2 linked regions of the Homo sapiens genome follow. The protein of the gene in region 1 interacts with the protein of each later gene in a pairwise test. Each region holds a gene or a part of one and is shown on either strand. Other genes may lie near its edges.

Evidence for each region.
Region 2: the proteins of RASGRP2 (region 1) and DISP3 interact in a two-hybrid assay, tested with the Homo sapiens proteins (one large-scale study listed by BioGRID and IntAct).

What each region holds. Positions count from the first base shown.
Region 1 is NC_000011.10:64,737,333-64,741,142, reverse strand, and holds part of RASGRP2 (RAS guanyl-releasing protein 2), read left to right. Parts: intron 1-63; coding exon 64-195; intron 196-693; exon of another isoform or gene 694-775; intron 776-979; coding exon 980-1,130; intron 1,131-1,333; coding exon 1,334-1,507; intron 1,508-1,666; coding exon 1,667-1,783; intron 1,784-3,810. UniProt on the Homo sapiens protein: Functions as a calcium- and DAG-regulated nucleotide exchange factor specifically activating Rap through the exchange of bound GDP for GTP. May also activate other GTPases such as RRAS, RRAS2, NRAS, KRAS but not HRAS.
Region 2 is NC_000001.11:11,524,121-11,527,930, forward strand, and holds part of DISP3 (protein dispatched homolog 3), read left to right. Parts: intron 1-1,055; coding exon 1,056-1,192; intron 1,193-2,530; coding exon 2,531-2,715; intron 2,716-3,810. UniProt on the Homo sapiens protein: Plays a role in neuronal proliferation and differentiation. Plays a role in the accumulation of cellular cholesterol. Involved in intracellular lipid droplet formation. May contribute to cholesterol homeostasis in neuronal cells.

The sequences.
Region 1 (3,810 bases):
CCTTGCAGCCTGCTGGGTGATGGTGGGGGAAGGGCTATCTTGGGTGACTCCCCGCTCCTCCAGGTACTGGATCTCCGCCTTCCCAGCGGAGTTTGACTTGAACCCGGAGTTGGCTGAGCAGATCAAGGAGCTGAAGGCTCTGCTAGACCAAGAAGGGAACCGACGGCACAGCAGCCTAATCGACATAGACAGCGTGTGCGTGGGGGGAGCACAGAGGGCTGGGGGGGCACTCAGTATCCTATACCATCTGTGCTTAATAAATGTCTGTTGAACTGAATGAGTGAGGGTCATGTTGCTCTCTCGCTTAAAAACCTTCCATGGCTCCCTATTGCCTTCAACATGCCTCCTCTGGGCAGCTTGGCGTTCCTGCCTCATCTTCCACTGCCACCACCCATCCCACACACCTCCTCCTGTAGCTGCGCTGGGTCGGCTCCCCGTCGGCTGAGCTCTCGAGTCCTTTCTCATCATGGTGCTCTGCTCATATCATCCCCCTTGCTGCCTCCTCCGTGTTACCAAGACTCAGTTCAGGCATGAAGTCTCCGTGGGCTCTGAGGGTTCGGGGCTCTTCCGGGGTAGAATTTGTCGTTCCCACCTCTGTTTTCCATGGCACTTTGTACAGACTCCTGTACAAAGACCTCTGTACATGTGTCACGCTGTTTTGTGATCATGTGTTTCTGTGTCTGTCTCCCTCAGTAGACTGTGAGCTCCTCGAGGGCAGGAACCGTGTCTTACTCATCTCTGTATTCCCAGCGCCTAGCACAGTGCCTGGCACAGAGTACGTTGTTCATAAATGTGTGTTGAGTGCATGACGGGGTCGGGGGAGATGAGGAGGAGTTGCTGGGACTGGGAACATTCGTGCCTAGGACAGTGCCTCGCATTATGTAGGTTCTCAGTAAGCGTGAATGGTGTGTCTGTGTGAGTGGGGGGCCACGAGTCATGCGCATGTCCAGCAAAGGGCTCACTACCCCTGCCCCCCCAGCCCTACCTACAAGTGGAAGCGGCAGGTGACTCAGCGGAACCCTGTGGGACAGAAAAAGCGCAAGATGTCCCTGTTGTTTGACCACCTGGAGCCCATGGAGCTGGCGGAGCATCTCACCTACTTGGAGTATCGCTCCTTCTGCAAGATCCTGGTGCGGCCCGAGGGCTGGGGGGTCAGGGGTCCAATGTGGGCTGGAAGAGAGTTCTAGGAGGGGCAGGGTCCCTGGCGTAGGCTGGGTCACAGGGTGCATCAGGGGTTTCAGTGTAACCACTGAAGGTCAGCTGGAGGGTGAGGAGTGGCTATCAGTGAGGGGAGAGGCCAGCAAGGTGCTGAGGCCACTCCTCATGCCCCCAGTTTCAGGACTATCACAGTTTCGTGACTCATGGCTGCACTGTGGACAACCCCGTCCTGGAGCGGTTCATCTCCCTCTTCAACAGCGTCTCACAGTGGGTGCAGCTCATGATCCTCAGCAAACCCACAGCCCCGCAGCGGGCCCTGGTCATCACACACTTTGTCCACGTGGCGGAGGTGCCTGCCCCTCCCTCCCGGTGTCTCCCAACCACCCCACATGCCAGTCAGGCCAACCCTTCCCTTCCCCTAACCCACTGCCTTCTCTCTAGATAAGCTGGGCCAAATTCTGGGCCCACTCAGTGACTCCCTGCCTCTCCGTCCCCATTTGCCTTCCAGAAGCTGCTACAGCTGCAGAACTTCAACACGCTGATGGCAGTGGTCGGGGGCCTGAGCCACAGCTCCATCTCCCGCCTCAAGGAGACCCACAGCCACGTTAGCCCTGAGACCATCAAGGTGCCTGGGACTGGGGAGGGGCCGGTGCTTCCCAGGTCTGTCTTCACTGGGTCCTCCCAGCAGCACTGGGGGCTGGGCACAGCTGTCCTCATTTGATAGATATGGAAATGGAGGCTCAGAGGGGTTAAGTGCTTTTCTCAGTTTGCACAATGGCAACAGCAGAGTGGGGGCTCACAGGTCGTCAGGGACCCCAAAGCTAGTACTTTTTTTTTTTTTTTTAAGACAGGGTCTCTCTCTCTGTTGTCCAGACTGGAGTTCAGTGGTGCAGTCACAAGCTCACTGCAGCCTTGAACTCCTGAGCTCAATCGATCCTCCCACCTCAGCCTCCTGAGTAGCTGGGACTACAGGTGTACGCCACCATGCCTAATTTTTGTATTGTTATTAATTTTTTTTTTTTTTTTTAGAGATGGGGTTTTGCCATGTTGCCCAGACTGGTCTTGAACTCCTGGGCTCAAGTGATCCGCCTGCCTTGGCCTCCCAAAGTGCTGAGATTATGGCTTGAGCCATTGTGCCTTGCCACTTGTAGTTTCTTCTTTTCTTTCTCCTTCATTTTTTATTATTTTTGAAGTATTTTGAAGTATTGAGTAACATACATATAGAAAAGTATATAAAAACATATGAGACTGGGCGTAGTAGCTCACACCTGTAATCCCAGCACTTTGGGAGGCTGAGGTGGGCAGATCACGTGACATCAGGAGTTTGAGACCAGCCTGGCCAACAAGGTGGAAACCCATCTCTACTAAAATACAAAAATTAGCCAGGCATGGTGGCACGCACCTGGAATCCAAGCTACTTGGGAGGCTGAGGCAGGAGGAGAATTACTTGAACTCAGGAGGCGGAGGTTGCAGTGAGCCAAGATTGTGCCACTTCACTCCAGCCTGGGCGACAGAGTGAGACTCCATCTAAAAAAAAAGAAAAGTATATAAAAACATATGAATAGTTTAAAGAAAAATTGTAAAGAAAACACTGTGTAACTACTGCCCGGGTTGGGAAATAGAACCTTGCCAGGCCCCCAAGCGCCCAGCACTTTAGAGCATAACTCCCTCCCCACGACTTTTGCAATGATGATCTTGCTTTTCTTTATAGCTTCACCATGTAGGTATGCGGTCCAAAACAATGTGGGGCTTTTTGTTGTCTGTTTTGAACTTTCTATGAATGGAATGTTGTTTGTGTTATTTTATGTCTTGCTTTTTTCATTCCACATGGTTCTGAGAGTCTTTTCATTCTGTCATGTGGAGCAATTGTTTTTTCATTTTCATTGCCATATAATATTTTATTGTACGTCTACCCCAATTCATTTATTTATTTATTTTTTTGAGATGGAGTCTGTCTCTGTCATCCAGGCTGGAGTGCGGTGGCGAGATCTCATCACTGCAACTTCCGTCTCCTGGGTTTACGTGATTCTCGTGCCTCAGCCTCCTGAGTAGCTGGGATTATGGGCTCGTACCACCACGTCTGGCTAATTTTTTGTAGAGACAGGCTTTCACCATGTTGCCGAGGCTGGTCTTGAACTCCTGAGCTCAGGCAATCCACCCGCTTTAGCCTCCCAAAGTGCTGGGATTACAGGTGTGAGCCACTGCCCCCAGCCTACCCCAATTTATGTATTGATTCTATTGTTGAATGTTGGGGTTTTTCCTTTTCTTTTCTTTCTTTCTTTTTCTTTCTTTTTTTTTTTTTTTTTGAGATGGAGTCTTGCTCTGTCGCCAGGCTGGAGTGCAGTGACGCTAATTTGGCTCACTGCATCACTGCACCCTCTGCCTCCCGGGTTCAAGCGATTCTCCTGCCTCAGCCTCCTGAGTAGCTGGGACTACAGGCATGCACCACCACACCCGGCTAATTTTTGTATTTTTTTAGTAGAGATGAGGTTTCCACCATGTTGGCCAAGATGGTCTCCATCTCTTGACCTCATGATCCATCTGCCATGGCCTCCCAAAGTGCTGAGATTACAAGTGTGAGCCACCACGCCCAGCTGGTTTTTCCAGTTTTTGCTGTTTGGACGGGGTGGCTGAGTATGTTCTTCCAGGTCA
Region 2 (3,810 bases), on another chromosome or scaffold:
GAGCAGATAAAATTCCTTCTGGATTCTCCTTCAAGAAGGAGATTGTGTGTTCCTGGTCACTGCAGAGGAGCTGGGGATGGGGGGTGAATTTGGGGCCCTCACCTCCCATCCCGCCAGGACAGTAGGCTCCCGCGACACCCTGGTCTGTGGTGCCCCCAGAGCCTCCCTGTGCACCAAAGCCACCCTGAGTGTCCAGGGGCAGAGGTGGGCATCCTGGGCCCTGAACACTGGCTTGTCCCTGCTGGAGTCTCCCTCAGAGGTGGGTGCTGGGTCAAGTGTACTGGGGGAATGAATGCCCCATCAGGCAGCTGTGTCTGTCCCTGTCACCCTATGGCACTGTTGCCACCTCTCTCCTACTACTGTCACTCCCAGCACCAGCCCTGTACCAACACTAGCACATTTTCAGCAGGATGCCCTCCATCACTGTCACCTCCGCTATCTAGTCCACCCCATCCCAGTGACTACCACCTCCCCCACCATCCCTACCACCCCATCCAGTGCCCACGACCTCCCCCACCATCCCTCCTACCCCATCCCTGTGCCCACCATCCCTGCCACCCCATCCCAGTGACTACCACCTCCCCCACCATCCCTGCCACCCCATCCCTGTGCCTACCATCTCCCCCACCATCCCTGCCACCCCATCCCTGTGCCTACCATCTCCCCCATCATCCCTGCCACCCCATCCCTGTGCCTACCATCTCCCCCATCATCCCTGCCACCCCATCCCTGTGCCTATCTCCCCCACCATCTCTGCCACCCCATCCCCGTGCCCACTATCTCCCCCACCATCCCTGCCACCCCATCTCTGTGCCCACTATCTCCCTCACCACCTCCCCCACCATCCCTGCCACCCCATCCTGTGCCCACCACCTCCCCCACTATTATTGCCATGGACCTGGTCCAGTAGAGAGGGGCACAGCCAGCATTTTGAGATGAGCCCAAGGCCAGGACTGAGCTCGTTAGTCGACAGAGCTGAGGGTGGGCTGCTCCAGGGTCAGGAGAAGCCAGTCGAGGTCAAGTCCACCCCTCTTTCATCCCTTATTTGTCCGTAGATTTCCCAGGCACCGTGTACATCTCTAAAGTGAAGAGTCAAGGCCACCCCGCTGTCTACAGGCTCTCCCTCAATGCCAGCCTGCCTGCTCCTTGGCAGGCTGTGTCGCCTGGGGATGGAGAGGTGCCCTCCTTCCAGGTGAGCCTGGGCTGTCGTGAAGTGAGCCGCCACCACTGTGGGTGGTGGGGGGCTCTCAGGGCCACACTGGTGGGCAGCCCTGGCCAATAGGGAGGGAGAAGCAGCTTTGAGGATGAAGACCCCCCTCCCCTAAACCAGCCATGTCTGTGACAGGGACCTGCCGAGTGGTAGCAGCGTGGGCTTCTGAGTCAGCCAGGCCTGGATTCAAATCCTGGCTCTGCCATTTATTAACTGTGTGTCTTTAGGCAGATTACTTACTCTCTGAGCCTCAGTTTCCTCATCTGTGACATGGGGATGCAACAAGCACCAGCCAGCATTGTTGGAGGGGTGTGAGGTGAGGCCTGTGCCGTGCAGAACGCCTGGGTGCAGTCCCTCCTCAGGCAGTGGCGGCCAGGAATCTTGCTGTCCTTGGTAGCTGCTCCAGCGCTGCAGAAAGGAGTCCCCGAGCCCAGACTTGAGTTTTCCCCTTCATGGGAGTCATTTGTGTTTCTTTTCTTTTTCTTGGGGGTGGGGGGAGGACAGGGGCTTGCTCTGTCACCCAGGCTGGAGTGCAGTGGCATGATCATAGCTCACTGCAGCCTCGACCTCCTGGGCTCAAGCGATCCTCTCTCATCAGCCTCCTGAGTAGCTGTGACCACAGGCACACACCACCATGCCAGCTAATTTTATCTTTTATTTTTTGTAGAGACAGGGTCTCTCTGTGTAGCCCAGGCTCATTTGTGTTTCTTTAACGTGGTACACACCCTCCATGGTGACAGGGACACGCGCCAATTCATTTGTTCAGGATTTATATTTCCATTTGGAAGATGAGGTCTCTGAGGCTTTTCCTGCCTCTAAGCCTCGCATGTGCAGTTCCCACTGCCTGAAAAGCTTTTCCTTCAGCTTCGTGCGTGGCTGACTCCTAGGTGCTCGTTCAGGTCTCAACATGCCTGTTGGTCCCCACAGAGCCCTGCCCCGGCGCCTTTCTCGCCTTGCCCTCCTCTCCCTGCCATTTATCCTGTCTTGTCTTCCTTATTCTTGGAAGCCATCATCATTGCCAGCTCCAAGAGGTCAGGGACCGTGCCCCTCAGAGCCTGGCACAGTGCCTGGCATGGGACAGACACTCAGTGAATGATTGTTGAAGGAAGAAACAAGGCTCAGAGAGGGAGGAAGGGATTTGCCCAAGTGCTGAACTCAAACCCAGGCCTCCCAAGCCTCTGCCCAGGGCTCTGTCCCCAACTCCGAGGACTGGGACAGGGTGAACTATGCCGAGGAGGGAGGGGACGGAGCCTGAGGCTGGCCCAGGCCGAGGCAGCCCCCCCGAGTCATGTGTCTTGTCTCTGTCAACCCACTGCTTAGGTGTATAGAGCGCCTTTTGGTAACTTCACCAAGAAGCTGACCGCTTGTATGTCTACAGTAGGGCTGCTCCAGGCGGCGAGCCCCTCCCGCAAGTGGATGCTGACGACCTTGGCCTGTGATGCCAAGCGGGGCTGGAAGTTTGACTTCAGCTTCTACGTGGCCACCAAGGAGCAGCAGCACACCCGGTAACAGAGCCTGGCAGACAAGCCGGTGCCCATCAGCCCGGCTGCTTCTTTGCCCTTTTCTCTCTTTTCTCTCTCTTTTCACATGAGGGATGCCAGCAGGCCCCCTCACTTTTTTTTTTTTTTCTTACTCTGTTGCCCAGGCTGGAGTGCAGTGGCACAATCTTGGCTCACTGTAACCTCTGCCTCCCAGGTTCAAGTGATTCTTCTGCCTCATCCTCCTGAGTAGCTGGGATTACAGACATGCACCACCACTGGTACCTGCTTAATTTTTGTATTTTTAGTAGAGATGGGGTTTTGCCATGTTGGCCAGGCTGGTCTTAAACTCCTGAGCTCAGGTGATTCACCTGCCTTGGCCTCCCAAAGTGCTGGGATTACAGGCGTGAGCCACTGCACCCAGCCCTGAGGGATGCCAGCAGACTCCTTTAAGAAACTGCTGGCCAGGTGCGGTGGCTCATGCCTGTAATCCCACCTCGGGAGGCCGAGGTGGGCGGATCACGAGGTCAGCCGATCGAGACCATCCTGGCTAACACAGTGAAACTCCTTCTCTACTAAAAATACAAAAAATTAGCCAGGCATGGTGGCACGCACCTGTAATCCCAGCTACTCAGGAGGCTGAGGCAGGAGAATCACTTGAACCCAGAGGCAGAGGTTGCAGTGAGCCGAGATCGCGCCTCTGCACTCCAGCCTGGGCAACAGAGCGAGACTCCATCTCAAAAAAAAAAAAAAAGAGAAAAAGAAACTGCTGTCCATTTCCACCTACCTGCTCAGATGGGTCTCTGCCCAGGGCTGGGGAGTGGAGAACATTGGCAAAGAGACGGGCCCGGGAGCTGCTCCCCACCTTGATAGCTCCTCAGGGGTTGCAGTGGCCACCTGGCTGTCCCTCTGGCATACCAGGCCCCTTTCCATCTCAGGCCCTTTGCATTTACTGCTCTCTGTGCCTAGAATGCTTTTCCCAGCTCCTCAAGTGTGAGACAACTTCTCAAGATTCAAGTCCCTGTCCAAAAGTCACCTCTTGGGAGAGGCTGTCCCTCTCCAAGTGCCACATCCAGCCTCTCTCCATACGTCACCCACTGCTCTCCTGGCCCCATTGCCACC